2 separate regions of the Homo sapiens genome follow, and region 1 is linked to region 2. The links come from fine-mapping of genetic effects on gene expression. A gene starts in region 2. The other region holds a variant in brackets. All regions are shown on one strand. Distances are from middle to middle.

Region 1 (2,500 bases), 22 kb before region 2:
ATTGGCCAGCAACATGACCTGGGTGATGGCTGCAGGTGGCTGGATGGGGCTAAATGGAGAGAGTTCTGTCCCAGAAGGTGGCTGCAACTTCACTTTCATTGACTAAAGAGAGAGAAACTCCTTTGAAGAGAACTGGTAGGTGCCCCCAGATGGAACCTGCAGTGCACACACACACTGCCACCTGCTGGCTGCAAAGGCCTCTACACAACAGGGTCAAGATAAGGCCGTTTTGGCCCCAGGGAGACACTGGTACCTTGGGCACTGCAGCCTGCAGCACGATGCTCTTGACAGGTAAGGGAGCCGTGTTCAGCATGGACACCACCACCACCAGCACGTCAGGTCGTCCTGGGGGACACTCCTTGGCAAAGTGGAAGAGGATGCGGAAGCCGTTTTTATCGTAGGCTGTCACAGGAAGGGCACTGCCTGTAAGAACGTGACGTGAGTGTGGGAGGAGCAGCACCAGAGACACCCAACAGAGCCCCGGCGGTGAGGAGAAAAGGGCTACTCCGTGGTCATGATGAGTCCAGTGCTTCCTAACGGAATCTGGGAGAGGCGCTCAGTGAGGAGCTTAAGACTGAGAATGCAGGCAGGGAGGCCTGCCTGGCTTTAAGGGACCCCCTGCAAAGAGTGCCTGGATCCATCCCTGTCGCATGTCCTACAGCTCCGTGGCTATAGGCCCCACCGCCCCACCCACCTCAATCCTCCAACACCTACTAGGCTTGATCGATTCCAGGGGCACGTGGATGCTGGCCAGGGAGAGCTCAGGCCCCTTCGGGGGGCTGCCCTGGGACTGGAAACTCAGTGGCTGGAAGAGCGGGCTGCCGGGCCCCGTGGAGAAGGGCAGGAGGGGCCTGGCTGGGGTGGTGGTGGGGATGAGAGGGGAGGTAGTGGGTTTCACCAAGCCCGAGGTCCTGGGAGGTGGGAAGGATGGAAAGCACGTCAGAGAGCCAGCCAGAGCTGCAGGACTCTCACCCAAGGCCCCTGACCATGCTCTTACCCAGGCCCACCCCTTGCCTTCCAGCCTGACTGATGGGACTACAAGGCACCCCCACCCCTTCAAAGTTAGCTCTGGTTCTGACACATTCAGGCCCAACCCTCAGCAACCCCACATCTCCTCCCACTCATTACACTTTGGCCTCTTCTAGAAGCTGATCGAGGGCATCCAGGTGGTGCAGCGCGCTGTTGCCCAACGCCAAGCCATGGTGCCCAGGGACTGCGGGCTCAACTTTTGGGGCCAAGGCTGGGGCCACTCCAGTAGAAAACAAGGAGGAGCCCGCACTGGGGGCAGGAACACTGGCTGGGACCACAGGAGCTGGGAAGGGAGGCGGCAGTGGAGCTTGGGAGCTGCTTGAGGAGGGGGCTGAGGGCTGGAGCAGAGGAGC[A/G]TCGGAGGCGCCACAGGCAGCGGTCCCCGGCCTGGGGCTGAAGAAGTCCAGGTCGGACTGTTCCCTCTATGAACAACAGAAAGGGTGGTGAGCCGAGGGCGGGTGGGGAGGGCCTGCCGCTGGAACGGGGCGCAGCCCTCCAAGGACTGCACGGAAGACAGCCCCGGAGGCACTCATTGTTCCCCGCTGCAGCTGGCACGCTCTGGAGGGAAGGACAGCTAACTGCAGCCCAGGAGACATGACGCTGGAAAGTGGAGGTCCTTGGCACAGTAGTGCTGTCACCGATCCTGTGCCCCTACCTGGAGCAGGTGCCACTGGCTGTTCCCAGCTGACTCTTTGGGAGGAACATTAGGGGCTGGGTCGGCGAGGCCTGACAATAGAGAAGAAAACAGGATGAGAAGAGGCTCTGAGCTAGGCAGCCCTAGCCCCGCCTTGCCTGAGGAGGGGTCAGGTGACAAGTGACATCAATGGGTGAAGGCGCCGGGAGAAGCTGTTCTGCAGGCAGCCTCCAGAGGGGAATGGAGCGCTCCAGTCCATGATGCAGAAGCGGGGGGCCTGTGGGGCGGGGTGCAGGGCAGGAGGCAGAGTCCACCGGGAGGATGGCCCTGGGGCCCTCAGGGTCGCTGAACTTCACTGAGTACCTCCAACTCAGGGTTCTTTGCCCACCCCAACAGTCACACTGGGGCCCCGCTCAGGGCTCCTAATTCCACACACCCTTCCTCCCAGAGCCCTGTCAGGGGATGCCCCTGACGCCCCCTGTGGGCCGCACCCAAGCAGAGTAGCTCCTCGTCCAGCCAGGAGAGGGCGTTGCTTGTGCTGCTGGGCCCCAGGGTGGCCTCGGCCTGGCTAGAGGAGCGGCTCCGTGGAGGTCCTGAGGCCTGGGGTGGTGGAGGGAGGATTGGGATGCCTGAGGAGGGTGGAGTAGGTGCTGGGGCCAACACGGAGGACAAACTGTTGGTCGTGTCCAGCTCCGCAAGGTCGATGAGCGTGCCTTGGTTACTGCACTGACTGTTTCCTGGATGGGTCAACAGAGCAGAACAGGAATAATTAGGGGTCTTCTAGTGGCTGTGTGGCAGGAGGCAGCACCCTAGGCACAGAGGTCACTGCTACAGCCTCTG
Region 2 (2,982 bases):
TGGAGTCAGGATGTCCTCTTTTTGTGAAATTATGGCAGTAGTGCCTGCTTTGCTAGAATACTTGGTAAACTAATTTAATGAATATCTGTAAAGTACTTTGAGCTCCTTGGAGAACACTTCCATATATAAAGAAGCCTTATGACCTGCCTGCAACTGCAGATTTTGCAAACGTGATCTTACTTTTTCTCTCTTTTGGGATATGCTCCCCTTTAAACTGAAGCTCAACCTCCTGAAGGGGGTTTCTTACTAGGAAAAATCAGACAATTTGAGGAAATAGCTATCACCTCCAAGATCCCGGAAGCAGTACTAAATAAGAGACCTCAGAACAAGGCAATACTAGGTATCTCACCTATCCCATTACCAGTCCAATTTCTCTCTCCACTTAAAGGAGGCTTCCAGGTCTAGCCTACAGGAAAGTTCACTTATTAACCCTCAGGCAGAGTACTACCTGCTAACCAGGTTAACACACATTTCCTTCGTAGCACTGTAATTCACAGTGCAATGACAGCAATACGCTTCTATAACTACAGCTTCAGACTGTGCTCCTCAGCCTTACTCAGAATAGGCTATCAACACTGACTCGTTAGGATATTCAAGGGGGTATATGTATGTGTGTGGGGGGGGAATTCCCGACACCGATTTCACCATGCTTCTGTGGTCACTGCAGGAAAAAGGTAGAGCTCTCTGTTCTCTATCATCGCTCTCTTTGGAATATTATTCTCACTTCAAGCATTCTGCCTGAGCGAAGCCGTCACTTCTCCAACACATGGTCACAATTCTGAAGCTGCCAGGCGACTGAACGCAGTCGGCAGCACCCACCACTACCGGAGACTCAGCCCCAATCCGAAGCTTCTCCCTTAGTCAGGGATTGGGGCGCTGGGTTCCTGGTGTCACCGCCGGGCGGCGACCCCACCACAATCTCCCCAAAGCGCCGAAGCATGTCAGCCCGAAGATCTTGGCTGTCGCCTTTCCCCGAGCCTGCGGTGCCCGACAGGAGCCCGAGTTCACGCCGCCGCGCGCCAGAGCAAGAGGACGCGCCGCAGCGAGGGAAGCGGGGGCCGGACTGGGGCCCGGCGCCCTGATAGGGAAGGGGCGTGATCGCAGGCTGCTCGCGGCGAGGGCGAGACCGGGCGTGGGCTGCCAAGAGGCGACGCCGTGGAGCCCGGGGAGGGGACGTGGGGGTGAAGACAGGGGCAGCCCAGCGGCTCGAGGGCAGGCAGAAACGGCCGCGGCTACTCACTGAGCCAGGACTCCAGGCTTTCCCCTTCCGCCTCCGCCATATTGCAGCCGCCCGGCCCCGCGGCTTCAAAACTCGCGAGAGTCTGCACGAGCTGAGACGGGGCGGGGCCTGCATGGGGTCCTGAGAGGAGTGAGTGCCGTCACCGAGGGCCGCGCCAGACTGCGACGGATACAGGGAGGGCAAGGGTTTCCTTTTGGCGCTCCCCTTTGGACCCCGGAGTGAAAAACTCTAACGTCCAGATCAGTGGAGAGAAACGCAGATTTAGGACCCTGAGGAGTCTTTTTCACCCGTTTCCCGTCACTCGCTCAGGCGCGCCGAGGGCAGTCCTTGTGGGGTCCTCGTGGCCAGCCAAGATGGCTGCCCCCGCAGTGAAGGTTGCCCGAGGATGGTCGGGCCTGGCGTTGGGCGTGCGGCGGGCTGTCTTGCAGCTTCCAGGGTGAGAGGGTGGCGAGCAGCGGCGGGGGGGCGCTGCGAGGAAGGAAGGGGGCCACAGGCAGGCCGCGTGGGCCCCTAGAGAGAGCATTGCCCTGGGGGCCGGAGTATCTGGATTCAAGCTTCTAAGTTAGCTGCGTGACCCTGCGCCAATCCGAAGGTTTAGTGACTACCTCTCGCCTAAGGAGTCTGGCTGATCTAGGGTTCTAACGCGGAGCTGAAAGTGCGGTTCAGCTAAAGAGCTCAGATCTGGGATCGCCTGTGAATTGGGATGGGTGTGTAGGCGCCAAGCCCATCCTTACCGTTAGCACTTGACCAGGAGGAGACTTTACCCGCCTGCTTGGGGAATGTCCTCCTACTTGGGACAAGGGCCTGAATTGTTGTGGCTCAGGTTTAGCTCGCGGTCTCCGCGCCGCTCCCCCTCGTCGGCGCGTTGGCAGTCATGCCTATTGTTAAGTCAAACCTACTCGCTTGTGGAGTCAGCTTTTGCCTGCCTCCTCCTTTCCCCCCCTCCCAGGCTAACTCAGGTGAGATGGAGCCGCTATAGTCCTGAATTCAAGGATCCCTTGATTGACAAGGAATATTATCGCAAGCCAGTGGAGGAGCTAACTGAGGAGGAGAAATATGTTCGGGAGCTCAAGAAGACTCAGCTCATCAAAGCTGCTCCAGCAGGGAAAACAAGTTCTGTGTTTGAAGACCCAGTCATCAGGTTAGATGGAAACAAACACTTGTTACATGGACTGGGACTATCCCAGGGAGGGTTTCTGGTGAGGATTCTGTGATACAGCCTTGGAGAGCTAAACGTGTTGCTTTTCTCTTTGAAGTAAATTCACCAACATGATGATGATAGGAGGAAACAAAGTACTGGCCAGATCCCTCATGATTCAGGTAAACAGCACTTCCCTCCTCAGTCATCTTTCTTGCCCCCCTACCCCGTAGCCTTGTACTTGGTACTTTCAGTGTAGCTTAAGAGCAAATGGATTCATGTATCTATTATTCAGATTAACTTCCCTGCATGTGTACGGGCTTTAATGAAGCCCTGTAAGAGTCAGCAACTGCCATTCCTTGGTGTTTCGGAAGTAAACACACAATTAAAAAAAAAGGAACAAATAAAAAATAAAACAACTGCCATTCCCCACCTCACCCCCCACCCCCTCCATGCCACAAATCTCAATCCACTCTTTCTGTCCTAGTCTAGCAAAGGGGGAGGCACTTAAAAACTTTGTTTTGGATGTGCTGTGAGAGGAGCTGCATTGCCAGCGCAGAACCAGAGGATGGGAGTAAAGGGCAAGGTACTAGCTTGGCTGGGT

What was found.
Region 1: its variant is fine-mapped to the expression of GGA3 in whole blood (TOPMed, PIP 0.98).

The regions. Positions count from the first base shown.
Region 1 is chr17:75,238,661-75,241,160 of GRCh38, forward strand. GGA3 (golgi associated, gamma adaptin ear containing, ARF binding protein 3) reads right to left here. Exons shown (of 17, transcript NM_138619.4): 11 at 2,152-2,397; 12 at 1,682-1,752; 13 at 1,129-1,448; 14 at 715-911; 15 at 254-423; 16 at 1-102. Among named protein-coding and RNA genes, the nearest start is that of GGA3, 22 kb to the right of the region's middle. RefSeq lists a silencer at 1,988-2,282. The variant A/G (reference allele first, on the strand shown) is at 1,383.
Region 2 is chr17:75,260,308-75,263,289 of GRCh38, forward strand. GGA3 (golgi associated, gamma adaptin ear containing, ARF binding protein 3) reads right to left here and starts at 1,299. Exons shown (of 17, transcript NM_138619.4): 1 at 1,241-1,299. The coding sequence starts at 1,280. MRPS7 (mitochondrial ribosomal protein S7) reads left to right here and starts at 1,572. Exons shown (of 5, transcript NM_015971.4): 1 at 1,572-1,676; 2 at 2,190-2,381; 3 at 2,497-2,560. The coding sequence starts at 1,594. RefSeq lists enhancers at 705-804, 1,275-1,684, 1,481-2,358.